Homo sapiens: one gene and its partners. Changing the gene in region 1 together with any one later gene gives a genetic interaction. Each region holds a gene or a part of one and is shown in the gene's direction. Other genes may lie near its edges.

Region 1 (3,500 bases):
TTTAAAAATTTCTATTTAATGCAGTTAGAGTAACTTGTAAGCTATTAGGAATTACTTATTCTTACCTTAATTTTCTTTTCTTTTCAGGAATTTAGTGGTTATGTTCAACAAGTAAAATATGCAATGACAAGAATAAAAGCTGCCATGCCAAGAATCTATGAGCTCGCAGCTGGAGGCACTGCTGTTGGTACAGGTTTAAATACTAGAATTGGCTTTGCAGAAAAGGTTGCTGCAAAAGTGGCTGCACTTACAGGTTAGTGATCACGTGAATTATTTCTCATTTTCATTTCTCATTATACGTGGTCTGTACATTTTCTGAGTGTTCCTGTCTTGAATTCTTGTGAATTTAAAGTTAGAAATGATATTTTTCCATCAAACATGTGTTTTAAGTATATTTCTGAAGTTATAATGTTAATTATTTGCCTTTTAAAAAATGTTCCATGTAGGAGTTTATACAGCATGCCATTAAAATCTACCAGTGTTAGCTTTGTTTACTAGTTAGTTTTCAATTAATTTCCCTTTAAAGTTTTGAATAGCAGTTTTCAAAATAGGCAGAAAAAACTGAGTGTTGAGTAAGTTATTTGAATAGTAAATATGTTGTAGACAGACTTAATTTCTTTTTTTTCCTATTATGTCATGCTGTGATAATTCTTTGAATTATTGACCTTTTTGAACCATGTCTTTCCTTTAGTAGAGAGAGTATTATACTTTAGATAATGATAACTATTATTAGGGCCAAGTTGTCATCTTCAGAAAACTCTCATTAAGATGTAGATGTTACCAGACGGTTAGGGTAGAGATAATTATACACTGCACATGATAGCTTACCAGCTGATTTGTCTTTAAACCATATTTTAATAGAAAAGAACTCTACTTTTAGGGTTTGGCAAATGTAGATTTATAAAATTTTTAACATGGGGGTTAACTGAGAACATCTAACTCATTTTAGCACACTGTTTTTATAGGGGATCTTGTGGGCTCCTGGCTAGGGGAGAGGATGAAGCACAGTAAAGTGGACAAAGAAACTTTAAAAAATTGTATTAGGGGCCGGACATGGGGGCTCACACCTGTAATCCTAGCACTTTGGGAGGCCAAGATGGGCAGATCACTTGAGGTCAGGAGTTCGAGACCAGCCTGGTCAACATGGCGAAACCCTGTCTCTAGTAAAAATTTAAAAAAATTAGCCGGGCATGGTGGCGGGCGCCTGTAACCCCAGCTACTTGGGAGGCTGAGGCAGGAGAATTGCTGGAACCCTGGAGGAGGAGGTTGCAATGAGCCAAGATCGTACCACTGCCCTCCAGCCTGGCTAAAAAAGCAAGACTCTGTCTCAAAAAAAAAAAAAAGAAAAAAGGTATTAGGAAAGGAGTGTGGTATAAACCAGAATGAATTCCCATATACTTTTTACTCAAGCATAGTCAGGCATCATATACGTGTGTTTGCAGTAGGATTGTGTTTTTTCTTTCAGTACATTTATCATACTTGTTATTTCATCTTTTTAAAATGTAGTGCCTGGCTAAGCACAGTGGAATTACACTCCTGTAATTCCAGCACTTCAGGAGACCAAGGTGGGTGGATCGCTAGAGCCTAGGAGTTTGAGACCAGCCTGGGCAACATGGCGAAACCCCATCTCTACTAAAAATTAAAGAATTAGCTGGGCGTGGTGGTGTGCACCTGTAGTCTTAGCTACTCTGGAGGCTGAGGTGGGAGGATTGCCTGAGCCATGGAGGTTGAGGCTACAGTGAGCTGTGATTGAGCCACACTGCACTCCAGCCTGGGCAGCAGAGTGAGACCCTGTCTGAAAAAACTTAAAAAATGTAATACCAGATTCTTTCTACTCCTTTAGGACTTCTTTTAAAAATGTAGACAAAATTTGAGTCTTAAGTAAACATTTTTTTCTGAAGTAAAATTTTTATTTTTTCGTATATTGGAACTTTCTGTTTCACTTGCTAATGGTAGAAAAATGTTTAGTTTAACTTGTTCACCCATCTAGGATATTTTTCTTTTCTTTAGGCTTGCCTTTTGTCACTGCTCCGAATAAATTTGAAGCTCTGGCTGCTCATGACGCTCTGGTTGAGCTCAGTGGAGCCATGAACACTACTGCCTGCAGTCTGATGAAGATAGCAAATGATATTCGATTTTTGGGTTCTGGTCCTCGGTCAGGTCTGGGAGAATTGATCTTGCCTGAAAATGAACCAGGAAGCAGTATCATGCCAGGTAATCACATAGCTAGTAAATGTTGGAGCTAAAACTTGACTAGGTCCTAGGCATTCTTAGCTATGGACCATGTCTCTCTTTGTTTAAAGTTATCCCGCAGCTGGATGCGCAAGGCGCACTGTTCCAGCATGTCTGTGGTCCTCTGGTCAGGACTGCTGGGCACGTCACCTGACAAGATAGGAAGAAAGAATCTGACTTAGCAGCAAGTATTTCGAATCCCACATTAGAAAATGTAGAGCAGGCTGTTAAAGTGATCAGCGCGGGTTGAATAAAAAGAAGTCATACCAAACTTCACTTATTTCATTTTTTGCATTCCGTTATATGCCTGTTAGATATAGCAAGTGACACAACAGTGTATGTCTGGATTTCAGCAAGTCATTTGATAGATTCGCATGATAGTCATTGATTCCAGTGGAGAAGCGTGGGCAGTGCTGGCAGATGAATGTAGCTGGGTGAACAGTGACATTTCAGAAGTGACTAATGAAGTGACTTCAGTCTAGAAGAATATATTGGTAACAAGCTGAAGGGCTCTGCCCTTCAACACTTTACTGGTGACTGAGGGTGAAGGAAGAGAATACATGCTAATCATATTAACAGTTAACAAAGTTGGGATAGCAATACTATGGATGACAGAACTGAGATCCATAAAGGCCACTGTAGCTTGGGCTAAAACTGACAATGTAACTTTTAATAGTGAGAAAGGCCTGACTCTAGATTTTTATGGAAATTATGGATCTGTAGAATAAGAAGAGATGAAATTTTGTTTTAAAGTACTTCATGTTGAAGAATGACATAAAGGTTTAGTTGATTGCAAATCCAGGGTGATTGCCAAAAGAAAGAGAACTGGGGGAGTCACAGATAAAGGCAATAATCCACCCAATAATCTTTCCAGTGTGTTAACTTGTACTGGTCAGAGGAATCTGGGTTGTTTGATTCAAACTTGGAGCTTGTCCAAGGAGTGTGAGCAGGGTAGTGGGGTTCCAGAGACTCGTGATAAATAGGAAAATTTTAGCTTAGCATCACCTTCCCCTAGGAAGCCTCCCATGTGTTAGTGAAGGGTCGCTTTTATAAGTGTTCTGATAGCAGCATACACTACTCTGTATTTACCCCTTATAATTGCCAGCTCTTTCTCCCTAGCCTCCAAGTTCTGCGAGGGCAGGGCCTGCATCTTTCTTATTCAGTGTTGTATATTGAGTGCCTGGCTCCATAAATATGTATAGAATGAATGAAAATCATGAAGGTGGAGAACTATATTTAATGTGTAGTTGTGGCTACTCGTTAGCCTT
Region 2 (3,500 bases), on another chromosome or scaffold:
CAGCCTGGGTGACAAAGCAAGACTCCGTCTCAAAAAAAAAGGACGGGTTCTCATTCTGTCACCCAGGCTGGGGTACCGTGGCACCATCTCGGCTCACTGCAACCTCCGCCTCCTGGGCTCAAGGCCATCCTCCCACCTTAGCCTCCCAAGTATCTGAGACTACAGGCACGTGCTACTGCTCATGGCTGATTTACTTATTTATTTTTGTGCTTTTCATAGAGACAGGTTGTTGTGTTTCTTTAGTCTCCTTTAAGAGTGCAGATGAGCTATTTTGTAGAATGCCCCTCAGTTTTGGGTCATGCATTTTTAACATGAATACCAGAAAAGCACTTCATTGTATTAGAAGGCACTTCTGGAGCCAGGTATGGTGCCTCATGCCGTAATCCCAGCTCTTTGGGAGGCTGAGGCAGGAGGATCATTTGAGCCCAGGAGTTTGAAACCAGCCTGGGCAAATAGTGGGACCCCTTCTCTACAAAAAATTTAAAAATCAACCAGGTGTGGTGGTGTATGCCTGTGGCCCACCTACTGTGTGCCAGCTACTCAGTAGTGCCAGCTACTCAGGACCTGGCTGAGGTGAGAGGATCACCTGAGACAAGGAAGTTGAATTTGCAGTGAGGCATGATTACACCATTGCACTTCAGCCTGAGTGACAGAGTGATGACACCATCTCTTAATTTTAAAAGAGTCAGCTTATATTCCTTGGAGAAACATCTTTTTTGCACCATTGTTATGATTCAGACAGAATCCTTCCATGATTTTTTTTTTTTTTTTTTAATTTTTAGAGAAAGGGTCTCACTCTGTCACCCAGGCTGGAATGCATTGGCTCGGTCACAGCTCACTGCAGCCTCCAATCCCTGGGCTTAAGTGATCCTCCCACCTCAGCCTCCCGAGTAGCTGGGACTGCAGGTGTGAGCCACCATGTGTGGCAAAATAATAATAATAATGATAATAATAATAATAATTAGTTAATACCCAGTGTTGTTGAGGACATGAGGAAATGCATTTTCTTTCACATGCTGCTATTAGGAGTGTAACAGTGCAACTGCAGTCATAGTTCACTGCAGCCTCAAACTCCTGGCCTCAAGCAGTACTCCCACCTCAGCCTCCCAAAGTATCCTCCCATGACTTCTAACAGGATTCCTTTAAAAGAAAACATATTCCTGAAAAATGAATAGGAAAAGAAGATGAGAATTCTTTTATTTTATTTTATTTGTTATGTTATGTTATATGTTATGTTATGTTTTATGTTATGTTTATGTTATGTTATGTTATGTTATGTTATGTTATGTTATGTTATGTTATATGTTATGTTATGTTATTTTTGGAGATGGAGTCTCCCTGTGTTGCCCAGGCTGGAGTGCAGTGGTGCAATCTCGGCTCACTGCAACCTCTGCCTCCTAGGTTCAAGCAATTCTCCTGCCTCTGCCTCCCAAGTAGCTGGAACTATGGGTGCCCACCACCACGCCCGGCTAATTTTTGTAGTTTTAGTAGAGACAGGGTTTCACTATGTTGGCCAGGCTGATCTTGAACTTCTGACATCAGGTGATTCGCCCGTCTCGGCATCCCAAAGTGCTGGGATTACAGACGTGAGCCACCATGCCCAGCTGAGAATATTTTAGAAGAGATTGGTAAAATATGATGGAGCTAGCACACACTCCCCCAAACCCAGAAAAGGTTTTTAGACCTTTTTTCTTTTTCCAGCTCCAATTTATGACAATTCTAAATCTGTCTCTCAAATTGTTTCAAAAAAGGACGGATGTATACTTTGGAAATTCTAATTTAATAAGTTAATCAACTTTGTGGGTTTGTTGTTGTTTTGAGACAGAGTCTCGCTCTGTCACCCAGGCTGGAGTGCAGTGGCACGATCTTGGCTCACTGCAACCTCTGCCTCCTGGGTTCAAGCAATTCTCCTGCCTCAGCCTCCCACGTAGCTGGGATTACGGGCACCCACTACCATGCCCGGCTAATTTTTTTGTATTTTTAGTAGAGATGGGGTTTCACCATGTTGGCCAGGCTAGTCTCAAACTCCTGGCCTCAAGTGATCCGCCCGCCTCGGCCTCCCAAAGTGCTGGGATTACAGGCATTAGCCACTGTGCCCAGCCCAAGTTAATCAACTATGAAGAGAAAAATAAAATCACATAATCTTGGTTGTTCAGCCTCTCATAAGAAAGCCAAATTGTTTTTTGCTTTTCCATGTTGTTTACTTGTATTTCTGAATTGTAGAGTCAAAGGAGAAGTTCAGAGTCCCATCAGCAATGCACCTGTCATACAGGAAGATCTCATCATGTCCTGTAACACCAGATACCATTTTCAGTCTTTTCTCTCTTTCTCCTGCAGGGCTACACCAAGTCCATTGATATTTGGTCTGTAGGCTGCATTCTGGCAGAAATGCTTTCTAACAGGCCCATCTTTCCAGGGAAGCATTATCTTGACCAGCTGAACCACATTTTGGGTAAGGTTCCCGAGCCCTTCAGGAGCTAGATTTACTCAAGTTTGTACAGCTTACATCAAAGTCACTTCATTAAATTAAGAAGAGTTCTAATATACTCTTTAACCTGTGGTAGGTGTGAATTTTTAACCTTCTCTGATTTAAAATGTTAAGGACTTTTGTGTAAAAACATAAGAAAGGTAAACATCAGGAGTGGTGATAAGCAACGGCTCATATCAATTATCAGGGTTCATTCCGACTCAGAGTTGATGGTGTGTAGTCATTTACCTTGGTCCTGATAACTAATAGCTAATTTTTTTATCTGATAGGTATTCTTGGATCCCCATCACAAGAAGACCTGAATTGTATAATAAATTTAAAAGCTAGGAACTATTTGCTTTCTCTTCCACACAAAAATAAGGTGCCATGGAACAGGCTGTTCCCAAATGCTGACTCCAAAGGTAAATGTTATTTCGTTGATTAGTTTTTTCTTAGGCTTAGCTTCGCGTTTATTTGTTAAATTGTTAGGTCACTAGCCTGAAAAATGAGCCTATGGCTATTGGATAATGCTTTCTTTAGTGCTCACTCTGAATTGTTGTCTTCCCCCTTTTTTTTTTTGGAAACAGTGGCAGTGCAGTAAGGGAACCTGGTAATGACGGTCTAGTTCTCCACCTTTTGGTTTCTTTGCTAATTTTAATTTGCATTAAGGTCACTTTTTTTTTGTTTTTGTTTGAGACAGTGTCTCACTCTGTCGCCCAGGCTGGAGTGTAGTGGCCCGATCTCGGCTCACTGCAACCTCCTCCTCCCGGGTTCAAGCGATTCTTCTGCCTCAGCCTCCCAAGTAACTGGGACTACAGACGCGTACCACCACGCCTGGCTCATTTTTGTATTTTTAGTAGAGACAGGGTTTCACCATGCTGGCCAGGCTGGTCTCGAACTCCTGACCTTTTGATCTGCCCACCTTGGCCTCCCAAAACTGGGATTACAGGCGTGAGCCACAGCGTTCAGCCTAAGGTCACATTTTTAGGTCTCAGGAAGTCTAGGACCCTGCAAACAAATTACACCTTTTCAT
Region 3 (4,103 bases), on another chromosome or scaffold:
ATTTGTTCAGTAAGAACATGGGAAAGCATAGCATGTAAAACTTTTGGACAAAAGGAAATAAGTATCATTCTTAAACATATGAAGAGATGCTCAATTTATCATAATAGGAATGTCAAAGTCTAACGAGGTATCACTTTTCACCCATCTAATTAGCAAAAATCAAGGAGTTTAACAGCACGCTATATTATGGGATGTGGTGAGGATGTTCTTCATGTCTTTGAGTTTGTCATTTTTTTGACTGGATTATATTTTCCTGTTTCTTTGTATATGTCTGGTCATTTTGTATTGAAAGGTAGTCATTGTGAATAATACACTGAAGAAAATTCTGAAGAGTGTTGATTTTTATTTTGACAATTTAATTGTTAGCTAATCACCTTAAACTTCATTTTGTGCTTTGTAGGGAAGTATCTGTTGAAGGGCTAGCTATCTTTCCTTGGCCCTTCTCCCTTGTTGGGACTCAATCTCCAGACTATCTCCCCAGAGAATCTTGTCAAGGCTTGGCTTTAAGCTTTGTTGGGGTGAGTCTAAAGAAAATCTTATCGCGCCACTGCACTCCAGCCTGGGTGACAGAACGAGACTCCGTCTCAAAAAAAAAAAAAAAAAAAAAAAAATCTTATTCTCAGGCATAATTTTTACTCCTGAAGAACAGTCCTTTTGGTGTCTTAGGTGGATGTCAGGGTAGCAACAAAATGTTAAAAGAAAGGTCTCCACTCTGGCAGGCCTGGAAACTCCATATTCTTGACACTGTTTTTTCTCAGCATTTCTTGACGCTGTTCCACACTCAGGCCTATACCAGTTGGCTGTGAAGTGTTATGTCTTGGGTGGTTTTTCTCAGCACATTTACATAGCCCATTCTTCAGCCACTGTGCACGTTTTGTAGAATTCTACAAGGAATCTCCTTCACCAAAGATCTGTAAAGGCTAGACTACTTTTACATGAACTTGTTATTTAAGAATTTTCTTCAGTTCTGTTAAGCATACATATCTTACGTTACCTGGATAATGGCCATTATTCTTTATTAAAATCTTTTAATAACTTTAGATCATTTCATAACTATACTTATGAAATAATCTAAATTCTTCTTGTATGCTAAATTAGTTGAATTTTGTTCCTTCATGTATATATGTAATACAGACTCCTGGTAAAACTATAAGTGAACAGTATTTTCATTTACTACTTTCCCATTGATTAAAAAAAAAAATCCTGTAACTTGCTAACTTGTAGTTCTACAAGTGCTATACCAGTAATGATGCTATGAAGAGTTTGTCTGGGAGTAGATTTTCCTTCTAGTTCTTCTAGGACCTGTAGAATTTGAGAGCTGAAGACTCTCAAATGTAGAGTATTTGGTCCAACCTTTTCATTGTTACTTATGAGAGAGTTAATGCCCAGGTGGCTTAAATTACTTTCCAAAGGTTATATAGCTAGTTAGTAAGAGAGTAATGCTTAGTATCCAAGTGTCAAGGTAAATTTATTCCATTTTCCCTGTCTCTGGATATAAGCTATCCTATGTTTTCACAGCTTTTTTTTTCCATCTTACTCAATTATTTCAGAACAACCAAAACAGCAGATATGTAAAAGTTAATGTCAGAGTGGTGGTCAGTAGGAGAAAGGTGAAGAAACATTTATTTCTTCCCTTTTATTCCAACTATTTTTGTGCTTGAGAGGTACTTCAGACTAAATGAAGGTAGGATGATCCATAATGTAGTTGCAGTTAGTTTCAGTTGCCCAAAAGTGTTTTGCTTATGATAGATAGCTGTAGGAAAGTCTTTTCATTCCTAAGCCCAGGCGTAAGACAAATGATCTTGGTCTCTTTTCTTTTTTGTAGAAGACTTTAGGGTCTCCACCCTTTGTTCTTTTCTTCTTATTTTCTACCATCATCCCTGATAACCCTTTCAGTCACTGTGCTGGATCAGCCTTCAGATTTGTACTTTTGTTTTCCCAGCTTCAGCCTTTTCCTTGTCCTCTCAAAAATAAGGCATGTAGACTCTTTCTCTATTTTAATAGTTTTACGGTTAAGGTGGCGTAAGATAGGCATTAACATCAGTAACAAATGAAAAGTTCTAAATCTTAAGATGACATTTCATCAATGATTGTAGTTGATTTATTTGCTACAGTTGTAATCGAGGACCTATCGGATACTTTCTACTCATTTATTCATTGAGTTAGTTGTGTCCTAATCAAAGCCACAGGCTCTTATACTAATATTTATACTTTAATTTTTTGTGGTTCTATAGAAAATCAAAGACTCCAAGTTTGATGACTGGAAGAATATTCGAGGACCCAGGCCTTGGGAAGATCCTGACCTCCTCCAAGGAAGAAATCCAGAAAGCCTTAAGACTAAGACAACTTGACTCTGCTGATTCTTTTTTCCTTTTTTTTTTTTTTAAATAAAAATATTATTAACTGGACTTCCTAATATATACTTCTATCAAGTGGAAAGGAAATTCCAGGCCCATGGAAACTTGGATATGGGTAATTTGATGACAAATAATCTTCACTAAAGGTCATGTACAGGTTTTTATACTTCCCAGCTATTCCATCTGTGGATGAAAGTAACAATGTTGGCCACGTATATTTTACACCTCGAAATAAAAAATGTGAATACTGCTCCAAAAACAGAGTCACGTATTCCACTCTCCAACTACCCACATATTCCTTTTGCAATAGCCATTAGGGCATCATTTTGATATTTCATTCTGATTTCTGATTCTCTGATTTCTGATTCCTAATGAGGACAGTAGGTCTGGATCCAAATTCTCACAGTAAAATCAAGCAGTAATTTTCTCTCATATCTATTAGGGAAAGAAAAATGATCACAGTCTGCTAAGAGTCTTGATTTTCTTTGTAATGCCTCACATAGTATGATAATCAGTCTCCAAAGCATCACATGATAATTACAATGATACCATTAACATGTCAAGGAAATTATATTATTTATGGTTGTCAAAAATTATGAAGTAGTGTATGATTATAAGCAGATATGGCAAATTTGTTCAGTAAATCCATAGATGACTACATTTTGAGAAATACTAAGATAATACTAAAAATTATGCCTTAGCATAATTTGCATGCAAAATTGCCCTCTAGTGTTTTTGTTTTGTTTTGAGACATAGTCTCGCTCTGTTCGCCCAGGCTGGAGTGCAGGGGCACGATCTCTGCTCACTGCAAGCTCTGCTTCCCGGGTTCACACCATTCTCCTGCCTCAGCATCCTGAGTAGCTGGGACTACAGGCACATGCTGTCACACCCGGCTAATTTTTTGTATTTAGTAGAGATGGGGTTTCACCACGTTAGCCAGGATGGTCTCCATCTCCTGACCTTGTGATCCGCCCACCTCGGCCTCACAAATTGCTGGGATTACAGGTGTGAGCCACCACGCCTGGCCGAAAGTTAGTTGTTTTGAACTCATTTTCTCCTTTTTACCCCTGCCTTTATCAGCTTCTACCTTCTGGTTTCATGCTGAGTTCTAGTTGCCTAAAGTCTCCATTGAAACACTCCTGTTATAATTGCCATAAAATCATAAATCCACTCCCCCTTTCTCCTCCTAGTCAAAATTTGTATTCTTTTCAGCAGGTTGGTTTTAATAAAAAGTAAATTAAGTTGATTATCTAGTGATAATTTGTGATAGACATGATTCATAAGATAGTTATCTGGGGGAGCAATTGGATTTCAGAGAAAAAAAGTCTCCACTTATTATTCACTCATTAAACAAGTAACTCAAAAAAGGATCATTGATTTAAATGTAAAACATAAAAGTATAAAACTTTTAGGAAAAACCACAGGAGAAAGGCTTCAACTTACCGAATAGCTCTTACCAAAGAATATTGATAAAAGAAAAACTTGACAGATTGACACATCAATATTACAAGCTTTTGTTTGCCAAAGGCCCTGTTAAAAGGATGAAAAATATAGACAGAGAAAACACATGTAAACCACATATCTGGCAAAAGACTCATACCTAGAGTAAAGAACTCTGTAAACTCAGTTAAAAAATATCCAATTAGAAAATGGGCAAAAAACATAGAAACATTTCACTACAGAGGATACACTGATAGCAAATTAGCTCTGAAAAGAATGTTTGACATCACTATGAAGGAAATGCAA
Region 4 (3,500 bases), on another chromosome or scaffold:
AGAAAATTGCTTGAACCCAGAAGGCAGAAGTTGCAGTGAGCCGAGATTGCGCCACTGTACTCCAGCCTGGGTGACAGAGCAAGACTCCATCTAAAAAAAAAAAAAAAAAAAGGAGAAAGCAGGGCTATCCAGATGGTTTCAGAAGGTTATTTGTTACTTAAATCTTCCTAATAACATTTGTTTCTCAACATTATTTTAACATAAGAAAAAAGGCCAGCACTGTGGCTCACACCTGTAATCCCAATGTGCTTTGGGAGGCTGAGGCAGGAGGATCACTTGAGATTAGGAGTTCAAAACCAGCTTGGGTAACGTAGCAAGACCTCATCTCTACAAAATGTTTTTTTTAAATAGCCAGGCATGGTGGTGTGGGCCTATAGTCTCAGCTACTCCGGAGGCCAAGGTGGGAGGATCACTTGAGACCAGGAGTTCAAGGCTGCAGTGAACTATGATCATGTACCATTGTACTCAGCCTGCGTGTCTCTTAAAAAAAAAAAAACAAAAAAAAAACCACCAAAAGCTTTATTTCTTAAATTTAACATGCAAATTTGTATTACTGCACTTCAGTATAGATGCCTAGCTCATTGTAATCAGTTGGTTGGATAAGTGTGCATCACTTCCTTTCATATTTTGTATGTGAGTTTACAAATATATATGTATATACATGTTTTATTTTTAGTTTCTCCCTTGTTTTCCTCAAAAAGGTTAAGTGGTAGAATCAGGAATAAAACCCAGTCCTTCTGTCTCCACACCTTCCTTTTCAAGGTGTGTTTTAATTACATCTTCACTATTGTTGATAGTATACTAGGTTATGGAGCAATTTATCACTAGTTTTTAAGATGTAACAAAATGAAATCAGTTTAACTGTTGGGTGTTTAGATATTGTAATGTTTTTGTTAACATTTAAACTTGCTTTCTTATATCCCTTCTGTAGGCTGTTGAAGCCAAGGAAAAACAAGATGAACAAGTCGGACTTCCTGGGAAAGGGGGGAAGGCCAAGGGGAAAAAAACACAAATGGCTGAAGTTTTGCCTTCTCCGCGTGGTCAAAGAGTCATTCCACGAATAACCATAGAAATGAAAGCAGAGGCAGAAAAGAAAAATAAAAAGAAAATTAAGGTAATACTCTTGTGGTGGCTCACACCTATAATCCCAGCACTTTGGGGGCCAAGGTGGGTGGATCACTTGAGGTCAGTGGTTCAAGACCAGCCTCCCAACATGGTTGAAACCCTGTCTCTACTAAAAATTAAAAAAATTAGGCGGGCATGGTGGCAGGCGCCTGTAATCCCAGCTACTCGGGAGACTGAGGCAGAAGAATCGCTTGAACCCGGGAGGCAGAGGTTGCAGTGAGCCAAGGTCACACCACTGCACTCCAGCCTGGCCAACAGAGCAAAACTCCATCTCAAAAAAAAAAAAGAGGTAATACTCTTAAAAATATTATGCATAAAATATTGATGCATATGTCCACTTAAAATTGAAAAAAAAATGTATAAAATTTTTTTGTTGTTGTTGTTGAGATGGAGTCTCGCTGTGTTACCCAGGCTGGAGTGCAATGGCAGGATCTCAGCTCACAGCAACCTCCGCCTCCCGTATTCAAGCGATTCTCGTGCCTCAGCCTCCCAAGTAGTTGGGGGCACATCACCACACCCAGCTAATTTTTGTATTTTTAGTAGAGATGGGGTTTCACCATCTTGGCCAGGCTGGTCTCGAACTCCTGACCTCAAGAGATCTGCCCACCACGGCCTCCCAAAGTGCTGGGATTACAGGCGTGAGCCACCGCTCCCAGCCAAAAATGTATAAAATCTCTAATCCCATAGTTCAGAATTTATTCTATATCCAACCCTAACTTTGCTATCTTTTAGAATGAAAATACTGAAGGAAGCCCTCAAGAAGATGGTGTGGAACTAGAAGGCCTAAAACAAAGATTAGAAAAGAAACAGAAAAGAGAACCAGGTATTACAACATTTTTAGAAAAATGGTATAAAGTGAAGATTAAATTGTGTTTGTTACCTAGTACATTCCACATAGATGTTCAAAACCTTTTTGTTGAATTGAGAAACGTGAAAGAGGACTGTATCTCAATTCTACTTGGACCTCTTTTTTTTTTTTTTTTTTTTTTTGAGACAGTTTCACTCTTGTTGCCCAGGCTGGAGTGCAATAGCACAATCTCGGCTCACTGCAATCTTCACCTCCTGGGTTCAAGCGATTCTCCTGCCTCAGCTTCCTGAGTAGCTGGGATTATAGGTGCATGCCACCACGCCTGGCTGCTTTTTGTATTTTTAGTAGAGACGGGGTTTCACCATGTTAGTCAGGCTGGTCTCAAACTCCTGACCTTGTGATTTGCCCGCCTTGGCCTCCCAAAGTGCTGGGATTACAGGCGTGAGCCACTGCCCCTGGCCTGGACCTCTTTAATATCGTCCTTGGGATTTGATTCATTATAGAAAATATTTTGTAATGAAGTAGTTTGTTAATTTGAATTCCTTAATTGGGATCTAAGAAAATACCCAGTTTATTAGATTTCATTTTCTAGCCACTTACGAGGTTCTAGTATACAAAGTTTCTTAAGAAAAGTGACTACATATTAGTAATGTTTGTAGTATCTCTAGAGTTCAACATCATGCTTCGGATATAAATAATGTCCACTCAATGAACTAAATAGAATTAATAATTCTGTTAATCATTTGATAATGCCTTTACTGTCTACTTTTTTTGAAACATCTTTATTGAGATATTCACATGCCAAATTTGCCCATTTAACGTATACCATTTGGCTGGGCGCCATGGCTTATGCCTGTAATCCCAGCACTTTGGGAGGCTGAGGCTGGCGGATCACTTGAGGTCAGGAGTTCAAGACCACCCTGGCCAACATGGTGAAACCCCATCTCTACTAAAAATACAAAAATTAGTTGAGTGTGGTGGTGCGTGCCTGTAGTCCCAGCTACTCGAGAGGCTGAGGCACGAGTGTCGCTTGAACCCAGGAGGCAGAGGTTGCAGAGAGCCAAGACTGTGCCATTGCACTCCAGCCTGGGTGACAGAGCAAGACTCCAACTCAAAAATAAAAATAAAGTATGCCATTCAGTGGTTTTAGTATAGACAAACAGTTTTAATACAATTTATTGCCCCCCAAGAAAACTGAACTCATTAACAATCATTTGCCATTTGCCACCAACTCCTCTCCACTGGGTGACCACTAAAAAATCTAGGGGCATTTCCTATAAATTAAATCATATAATATGTGGTCTTTTGGAGCTGACTTCTTTACTTAACACATTTTCAAGGGTAACCCATGTGGCAGCCCATATATTAGTACTTCATTCTTTTTTTTTTTTTTTTTTTGAGGCAGAGTTTCGCTCTGTCGCCCAGGCTGGCATGCAGTATGCAGTAGTAGTGAGATCTCGGCTCACTGCAACCTCCGCCTGCTAGGTTCAGGCAATTCTCCTGCCTCAGCCTCCCGAGGAGCTGGGATTACAGGCACGCACCACCATGCCCAAATAATTTTTGTATT

The links.
Region 2: changes in FH (region 1) and MAPK1 are lethal when combined (synthetic lethality), as found in Homo sapiens cells (one large-scale study listed by BioGRID).
Region 3: changes in FH (region 1) and COX16 together harm fitness less than expected from each alone (positive genetic interaction), as found in Homo sapiens cells (one large-scale study listed by BioGRID).
Region 4: changes in FH (region 1) and TOP2A are lethal when combined (synthetic lethality), as found in Homo sapiens cells (one large-scale study listed by BioGRID).

Annotation. Positions count from the first base shown.
Region 1 is NC_000001.11:241,502,756-241,506,255, reverse strand, and holds part of FH (fumarate hydratase, mitochondrial), read left to right. Parts: intron 1-87; coding exon 88-253; intron 254-2,010; coding exon 2,011-2,214; intron 2,215-3,500. UniProt on the Homo sapiens protein: Catalyzes the reversible stereospecific interconversion of fumarate to L-malate. Experiments in other species have demonstrated that specific isoforms of this protein act in defined pathways and favor one direction over the other.
Region 2 is NC_000022.11:21,787,646-21,791,145, reverse strand, and holds part of MAPK1 (mitogen-activated protein kinase 1), read left to right. Parts: intron 1-2,337; coding exon 2,338-2,452; intron 2,453-2,757; coding exon 2,758-2,889; intron 2,890-3,500. UniProt on the Homo sapiens protein: Serine/threonine kinase which acts as an essential component of the MAP kinase signal transduction pathway. MAPK1/ERK2 and MAPK3/ERK1 are the 2 MAPKs which play an important role in the MAPK/ERK cascade.
Region 3 is NC_000014.9:70,324,581-70,328,683, reverse strand, and holds the end of COX16 (cytochrome c oxidase assembly protein COX16 homolog, mitochondrial isoform 1 precursor), read left to right. Parts: intron 1-2,234; coding exon 2,235-2,351; 3' UTR 2,352-3,603; downstream 3,604-4,103. Other genes in the region: SYNJ2BP-COX16 protein, read left to right, coding at 2,235-2,351.
Region 4 is NC_000017.11:40,393,897-40,397,396, reverse strand, and holds part of TOP2A (DNA topoisomerase 2-alpha), read left to right. Parts: intron 1-931; coding exon 932-1,114; intron 1,115-1,857; coding exon 1,858-1,948; intron 1,949-3,500. UniProt on the Homo sapiens protein: Key decatenating enzyme that alters DNA topology by binding to two double-stranded DNA molecules, generating a double-stranded break in one of the strands, passing the intact strand through the broken strand, and religating the broken strand.